Linked DNA regions of Homo sapiens: regions 1 and 3 are each linked to region 2. Evidence: fine-mapped expression QTL. A gene starts in region 2. Each other region holds a variant in brackets. All regions are shown on one strand. Distances are from middle to middle. Region 1 overlaps TATDN2 (TatD DNase domain containing 2). Region 2 holds the start of TATDN2 (TatD DNase domain containing 2). Region 3 overlaps TATDN2 (TatD DNase domain containing 2).

What was found. PIP is the estimated chance that this variant, and not a neighbour inherited with it, causes the effect. A credible set is the group of variants that fine-mapping cannot tell apart.
Region 1: its variant is the best candidate, but not a certain one, in a credible set for the expression of TATDN2 in whole blood (INTERVAL, PIP 0.70).
Region 3: its variant is the best candidate, but not a certain one, in a credible set for the expression of TATDN2 in prefrontal cortex (GTEx, PIP 0.70).

Annotation. Positions count from the first base shown.
Region 1 is chr3:10,271,908-10,274,667 of GRCh38, forward strand. All of the region lies in intron 4 of TATDN2 (TatD DNase domain containing 2), which reads left to right. Among named protein-coding and RNA genes, the nearest start is that of MIR12127, 7.1 kb to the right of the region's middle. The variant ATGG/A (reference allele first, on the strand shown) is at 1,433.
Region 2 is chr3:10,247,282-10,250,041 of GRCh38, forward strand. TATDN2 (TatD DNase domain containing 2) reads left to right here and starts at 1,178. Exons shown (of 8, transcript NM_014760.4): 1 at 1,178-1,786; 2 at 1,914-2,333. The coding sequence starts at 1,920. RefSeq lists a silencer at 1,064-1,493 and an enhancer at 1,746-2,614.
Region 3 is chr3:10,275,919-10,278,678 of GRCh38, forward strand. TATDN2 (TatD DNase domain containing 2) reads left to right here. Exons shown (of 8, transcript NM_014760.4): 5 at 443-570; 6 at 2,361-2,544. Among named protein-coding and RNA genes, the nearest start is that of MIR12127, 3.1 kb to the right of the region's middle. The variant G/T (reference allele first, on the strand shown) is at 1,660.

The DNA of each region.
Region 1 (2,760 bases), 25 kb after region 2:
TAGTAGAGGTGGGGTTTCACCATGTTTGTTAGACTAGTCTCGAGCTCCTGACCTCAAGTAATCCACCTGCCTCGGCGTCCGAAAAGTGCTGGGATTACAGACCTGAGCCACTGCGCCCGCCCCCTGTTAATATTTTTTTTCCTCCCAATATTTTTTGAGCATAGTGCTTTGGCAGGGTAAGAGTTGTAGTATTTTAGAATTTCTTTTCTTTTTTTTTCAGAGATAAGGTCTTTGTCGCCCACACTGGAGTTCAGTGGTGCAGCCACAGCTCACTGCAGCCTTGACCTCCTGGGCTCAAGTGATCCTCCCACCTCAGCCTCCCAAGTAGCTGGGACTGCAGGTGCACACCACCACGCCTGGCTAATTAAAAATAAAAATTTTTTTGAGATGGAGTCTTGCTGTGTCACCCAGGCTGGAGGGCAGCGGTACGATCTCAGCTCACTGCTACCTCCACCTCCCCAGTTCAAGTGATTCTCCTGGCTCAGCCTCCTGAGTAGCTGGGATTACAGGTGCCTGCCACCACACCCGGCTAATTTTTTTTTTTTTTTAAGGCAGAGTTTCACTCTTGTTGGCCAGGCTGGAGTGCAATCGCATGATATTGGCTCACTGCAGCCTCCAGTTCCCAGGTTCAAGCGATTCTCTTGCCTCAGCCTCCTGAGTAGCTGGGATTATAGACTCCCGCCACCACGCCCAGCTAATTTTTTGTATTTACAGGATCACACCTGTAATCCCAGTATTTTGGGAGGCCGAGGCAGGCGGATCACCTGAGGCCAGGAGTTGGAGACCAGCCTGGCCAACGTGGCGAAACCCCGTCTCTATTAAAAATACAAAAATTAGCTGGGTATAGCTGGGTGTGGTGACTCATGCCTGTAATCCCAGCACTTTGGGAGGCCAAGGCGAGCGGATCACCTGAGGCCAGGAGTTGGAGACCAGCCTGGCCAACATGGTGAAACCCTATCTCTACCAAAAAAAAAAAAAAAAATTAGCTGGGTGTGATGGTACATGCCTGGGGTCCCAGCTACTCAGGAGGCTGAGGCAGGAGGATTGCTTGAGCCTGGGAGGTTGAGCTGCAGTGACCCATGATTATGCTCCAGCCTGGGTGACAGAGTGAGACCCTGTCTCAAGACAAAATTATCAGGGTCTCAGGTCTGCACTTAAAGGTCCATGGGGCGACCTGCACAACAAACTGAACTAGAAGCGATAGGCATAGGGGGATAAACACAGTCTTGAAGATGTCATTTGGCTTGGTGAGATTTGACTCAAGACTGGAAGATAATGAGTCTGAGGAGTTGCTGGCTGGGAGAGGGCTAAGCTGCCTGTAAAGGGGAGGAAGACTAGAAAATATTTGTCAACACCAGAGACTCCTAGGCTGGGTGGGGGATATGGACACTGTTTTGATGTAAATAAAAAATTTGGCACCCAAATGAGGTGA[ATGG/A]TGGTGACTGGCAACTGCACCTAGTTGGATGTCAGTGCTGAGTTGCATTTACCTAAAAGAGCAGTTAGCAAGTTCTGGATGTGTCCTGCTGAATGTTTTATCTTGTGAAGGGAAGAAGAAGAACCTATAGAGGGCTGGGCGAGGTGGCTCACGCCTGTAATCCCAACACTTTGGGAGTCTGAGGCAGGAGATTGCTTGAGCCTAGGAGTTCAAGATGAGCCAAGGCAACATAGTGAGACCCCATCTTTATTACATTAAAAAAAAAAAAGAGCCTGTGGAAGGTCTGTATCTGGGCAAGATGATAGGGTGACAGACCCTGCTCATTATAGGAGAGTTTGGTTGATGTACCTAAAATTTTCTGGAAGGATTGGAAAATAGAGAAAAGCAAAACAATTGGGGAAAGAATGGGTAGTTATAGTTATTCTGCTGGTTAGAGCAAATTACTGTTAACGTTTTCTTTGTTGATCTGTGGTGTTTACAGATTAACTATGTAACTCATAAGAGTTAGATCCTGAATAGTTTGTGTGTAAGTTGCACATGTCAGCATCTGGGAGGGATGCCAGGGAGAGTAGACTGTCCTTCCCTACCCAGGCTGTATCTCTTTACTTGTGTTAAAGAGGAATTAATTAATTATTAAAGTAATAAATATGCAAGAGATGCCTGGGGCAACTCCCAGGAGAGACTAACTCTGGAATCCCTGGAAATAATGGATCAGTTAGGAAGCCAACCTTATGCAGGTAGAAGTGAGTAATTATACTGGGTAATAACTCATCTGTACTTCCTTCACTCCTGTTGTTTTTCAGCTGGGTTCCTGGTGAGGACAAATGCTGCAAATAGCTCCTGTCCAACCACAAGTTCCTGCATTCTAATGAGTTCTTCTTCCTTCTTAACATTTTTGAAATCTGGATGTGTTTCATGAAACATTATAAATGTAATGTTATTGTTCCTTGGAAAATTGCAAGGTACAATACAATTGCAAGGAACAGTTGCACAGTGGCTTGTCTTCCATGCACCTGTCGTAGGTTGGATGTGTGTGCTTGTGTTAAAGAAAGAAATTAGGAAATTAAATAGTTTTAAGTGTCTTTTCTACTCGTGAAATTTTCCCATTCATCAGCTATACTTTGAAAAATGTTTAACAGCTGTGTAATATTCTATCCTAAAGCTCTAATAGTTTATTTCACTACTCTGAGGGATAATTTTTTAGAGGCAGGAATGAAATGTTGGAATTGGAATCTCTTGAAACCTCTGCTGCCTGTGTGTAGGGGTCGGGGAGGGCAGATGAACAGCTTAGCAGATGCAAATAGGAGGGGCTCCAGCCACCTATT
Region 2 (2,760 bases):
TTTTTTTTTTTTTTCCCTGAGACAGGGGTCTCACTTTGTCTCCCTGGCTGGAGTGCAGTGGCAGTAATCTTGGCTCACTGGACCCTCGACTTCCCAGGCTCAAGGGATCCTCCCACCTCAGCCTCCTGAGTAGCTGGGACTACAGGCGCCCACCACCACACCAGGCTAATTTTTGTGTTTCACTAGAGACAGGATTTCACCATGTTGCCCACGCTGGTCTCGAACTCTTTGCCTCAAGAGATCCACCCACCTCGGCCTCCCAAAGTGCTGGGATTACAGACGTGTGCCACTGGACCCAGCCTCCTTTGCCAGTCTTAATACTAAGTTATTTTATTATTTTGGGAGAATTGCTACATCGAATATCAGCCCTTTGTCATATGTTTCGAGTATTTTTCTGAATTTGTACCTTGTCTTTGATTTTTTTTCTTTTTTGAGACAGGGTCTTGCTCTGTCCTCCAGGCTGGAGTGCAGTGGCGGGATCACAGCTCACTGCAGCCTCGACCTCCCGGCCTCAAGTGATCCTCCCACCTCAGCCTGAGTAGCTGGCATCACGCCCAGCTAATTTTATTTTTTGTAGAGATGGGGGTCGCACCATGCTGGCCAGGCTGGTCTCTAACTCCCGAGCTCAAGCCATCCTCCCGCCTCGGTCTTCCAAAGTGCTGAGATTGCAGGCGTGAGACACCGTGCCCAGCCGTCTTTAATATTTTTCACCAGGCGGATAGTTCACATTTTTGTGTAGTCTTTTTTTTTTTTTTTTTGGTGCCTTCTAATTCTAATTCTTCCCATTTCTGGGTGTGTACTTAGTCTCTCTGAGCCACAGTTTTCTGCTCTATAAAGTGGGGTGATAATGCTCAGTACACGGTTTGCTTTGGCTCGATGAGAAATCCAGGTCTGAAAGCTTCAGGTACAGCGGCCGGCGCTGAGGAAAACAGCGTTAAGTGAGGCGCGTCAGCGGACACCACCTGCCTGCACATCTGGCTGGCCTCAACTTCCCGCTGTTCGAGCCCACGTGAGTGGCTCCGCCCCATCTGGCTTCTGACCAATGGACGAGCTTCCTAAGGCGTACCGTCCCGACTCCAAGGCGCCTGGCTTTGAGGCGGGCTGCGTCTTGCTCGGAGTCCCGCCCCTTGCCGGGTCGAGCAATGGGCGCCTTCCGTTTGGCGCAGGCCCCGCCCCTGTCGCTCTCCGGCCTGCGGGCCGCAGGGCTCGTTCCGGAGGGCGGGCGCCACGGAGGCCGGAGTGGTCGCAGTTCGGGCGGAGGCCGGGCCAGGCGGGGCTGTAGGGCTGGGGCAGGCGGCGGGCTGCCCGGCGGGACAGCTGCGGCAGCCGGCGGGGGGCGTCCTGAGTTGGCGGTCGAGGGCGCTGCCAGCTCCCGAGGGGCCGCTCGGGCCCCTTCCGGCCCGGGTCTGGTTGGGCCGCAGGAGCAGGGCGGGCTGCGGCGCCCGGGTCTGGCCCTGGCCTACGGGCTAAGCGCCCGGCCCCGGGGCCGCGGATCCGGCAGCCATGTGTGGATCTTGAAGCGCCATGTGGTCTTCTGAAGCGCTTGACAGTTCTAAAGGGCTTTATATTGCAAACTGATCAAAGCGCTTCGTAGCCCCGGAAGCGCTTAGGCATCTCCGAAGTAGCGCTGGGCAAAGTGAAGGCTTCCTGATCTCAGAAGCACGTTGTGGGCTTGGAAACCGACGGCAGCCTTTAGTCAATTTTGGATCGCTTTGACTTCTCCAACACGGTTTGGCATCTCTGAAACCTTGAGAACTGTGATGGGCAGTGGAAAGAAGAGGGAAAGGTCAGTGAGGCTAGCCCCTGGCTCTGCCCTTATGTCTTGCCGTCCTCCTGGGCCCGGGGTGGCGGGAATCTGAGGTGGGGTCGCCAGGAAGGGTGGTGTTGGAATCCAGGCCCCCTGTACCTTGCAGGTGCCCATGGCGTCCGAGCGGGGCAAGGTCAAGCACAACTGGAGCAGCACGTCGGAAGGGTGTCCCCGCAAGCGCAGCTGCCTCCGGGAGCCCTGTGATGTGGCCCCCTCCAGCCGGCCAGCTCAGAGGTCTGCGTCGCGTTCTGGAGGGCCCAGCAGCCCCAAGCGCCTGAAAGCCCAGAAGGAGGACGATGTGGCTTGCTCGCGGAGGTTATCCTGGGGCTCATCCCGCCGCAGAAATAACTCCTCCTCCTCCTTCTCCCCACATTTCTTGGGCCCTGGTGTGGGCGGGGCCGCCTCCAAAGGCTGCCTGATTCGGAACACTCGGGGGTTCCTGTCTTCAGGGGGATCCCCTCTGCGTCCTGCCAACGCCTCTTTGGAAGAAATGGCTTCTCTAGAGGAGGAAGCCTGCAGCCTTAAGGTAGGTGGCTGCCACGCTTTGCAATCGGTGAAGCCCCTTCCACATGGCTTGAGAGGTTGGGGATGGGAATTTTGGTGGAAGGAGACTACAAAACATTACATCCTTGAAGGTCTGGAAGGTCTTTCTAGAAGTCCACTCCCCCCAAACTCGAAGACCTAGCAGTCTTCCAGGCGCGTGGCCTGAAGTTAAGTAGAGAGGTAATTTTCAAACTCGGCAGCACTTTGGAACTACTTGGAAAGCTTTAAAATACTTGGGCCTGCCTCCTACTCCAGAGAAACTGATTTATTGGGCTGAGGTGTGGTCTGGGCTTCCAGATTTTTCAGTGCTCCCCAGGTTATTGTAAACGTGCAGCCCCGTTGGAGAATCACTGCAGTAGAAGGTGGATTATGTGCTCAAGAGAAGAATGTATTTATTTTAGTTGTCAGTT
Region 3 (2,760 bases), 29 kb after region 2:
GGAAGTTGGTATCTCTTGAGAGCGGAGGTGGGGACAGTGAGGTGAGGGACATTAACTTTGCGCTTTATGTTCTTGATCCCTGCCCTGCCCCTGCCACCCCAGGTCGGCATCATATAGTGGTTACTGTGTGGAATGCCAGGGTTCAAGTTTGGATCCTGGTGCTATAGCTGCTGGCTGCAAGTTAACTTGCCCTCACTGCATGCTGCGCAGACAGCAGCACCTGCCTCAGGGTGGTTGTGAGGACTGCAGGTTATGATAGACGTGCAGTGCTTTGGGCACTACCTGGCTCTATTGTAAGTGACCAATAATCATTAGCTATTATTACATTATATAGTTAAAAAAAGAGAGACACAGGGGGTGCCTGCTGGACTGGGCGTTCCAGAGGTGATGGACTTCTGAAGTGCTGCTAACCAACAGGGGTTGTCGCTGTGTCCTCTCCTAGGTATTTGAGAGACAGCTGCAGCTGGCTGTGTCTCTAAAGAAGCCCTTGGTGATCCACTGCCGAGAAGCTGATGAAGATCTGCTAGAAATCATGAAAAAGTTTGTGCCCCCTGACTACAAGATCCATAGGTTAGAAGACTGGAACTTCAGCGGGCAAATGAAAGAAACACTTCCTCTGTCAAGTTGATGAGGACAGCAATGATCGTATTCTGTCATTATACACTATCTATTCTTTTTTTTTTTTTTCGAGACGGAATCTCACCCTGTCGCCCAGGCTGGAGTGTAGTAGTGCAATTTCAGCTCACTGCAACCTCTGCCTCCCGGGTTCAAACAATTCTCCTGCCTCAGCCTCCTGAGTAGCTGGGATTACCGGCACATGCCACCACGCCCAGCTAGTTTTTGTATTTTAAGTAGAGACGGGGTTTTGCCATGTTGGCCAGGCTGGTCCCGAACTCCTGACCTCGTGATCTGCCTGCCTCGGCCTCCCAAAGTGCTGGGATTATAGGCGTGAGCCACCGTGCCCGGCCTATACACTATCTTTTCTAAAGAATTAACTATTAGGTTAAACCACTTGAAATTTCTCATATTTGACCTTTTTTTTTTTTTTTGCTCACAAAATAGTAACTTCGTATGGTTTGAACTAATAACCCTAAATCACCAGTGAGCACAAGGGGCCTTTTGTGCCCCCATCCTGGGGATGGGCAGAAATGGAGTTTCAGTTCTCAGCAGTGAGGATTGCTGATCTTGAGAGGTTGCTGTGGGGTGTGGTGGCTTAGCACACAGAGCATCTTAGGGTACTTGAAAGGACATTTTCTTTCCTCTTTTGAACTTGAAAGCTCCTTTCTCCCCAGTTATGAAAATCAAGGTCATGTTTTATCAGAATGGCATCTATGGGTGCTTAAGTTCAGTTTGGTAAACTCTCTGAACTTCTGAACTCTTGCCACGTGTAGGTCCTGGGCTTTGGCTTGCCTCTGGGGACATCTGGAGGTGCTGCCAGGAGACAGGTTGGATGGTGGCTTCTGCCTACATAGCATGTGGGACTGGGTGGTCATAGGTGCTGTGGGAGCCACAGCAGGGGCCCATTATCATAGCCCAGCCAGAAGACTCAGGAGGTGATGCCTGGCCGGCTCCTTAAAGATGGTTGAGAGGGGTTGGCTGAATAACAAGGACTCTAGCACCCAAATCGGGTCTTGTCAGATGGCAGAAAAAGGAGGATGG[G/T]GCTGTCAGGGCCTTTGGGTACCTAAGCAGAATGAGTGAAGCCTCTGACCCCTGGCTGCTGCACACACCAATGATGAGGCAGTCAGTTGGCTTTTCTGGGTCGGTTGGTTTTTCATTACTTCATTTTGGGCTAACTTTGAAGGAAATGTAATGGTGGCTGGTAGGCCAGGGCTAAGGTGACCCAACGAGGTGGTATTGCAGGAGGAGGCCCTAAATTTACAGATTGGTAACTATATATATGGCACCAAGAACATGAACAGGTATCAGATTAAGAAAATCCACCTGTAGTTCGACTCCCCAGTATTTTGTTAGATTTCCTTTCAGTTCATTTGACTACTTGGGCATAGTTTTTATATGCTGTCGTTGTCATCATAGGGGCCACAGTTGTTGATTTTGCTCCTCTTCAGTGTTAGAAGCATTTCCTATCCCAGTGTGTTCTCTGTGGTGGTCATCTCAGGGGACTGCAGAGCACTCTGTGGTGTGCGTGGTATCTCTGAGTGATCTCTGATCACTCACCAAGTGCCATCTCGGGGCTTCCTGTGTTGGAGCCAGCCCTTGTCTGTGTTTACTGTGGAGTCCTTCCCTAGGATGCAGTCTTTCCATTTCTGGGAATCATTGAAAAGGGGTGATGGGTGTGGGGGGAGCTGGGGGCTGCTGCAGAGGGGACTGTGAGCAGCCCTGATGTGGAGTTCTGTCTCCAGGCATTGCTTCACCGGCAGCTACCCGGTCATTGAGCCCCTGCTGAAGTACTTTCCCAACATGTCTGTGGGCTTCACGGCAGTGCTGACATACTCCTCTGCCTGGGAGGCCCGGGAAGCCTTGAGGCAGATCCCACTGGAGAGAATCATCGTGGAAACGGATGCTCCCTATTTCCTCCCTCGCCAGGTAAGGGGGTCTTCAGGCTGAGTGGAGGCACCGGAGGGAGAGGGTGGGGAGGTGGGTGGTCACCCTTACAAGGTTGGCAGGGCCAGAGCCCCAGTGACTTCCAGGTCCCATCCTGGGCTGTGTAGATGCCTCCTTGCTGTTACTCTGCAGAACCAAAAGTCTAGGGGGCTGAGAAGCTGAAGGGTAACCACTCTCTTCCAGGCAGTGCAAAGCCCT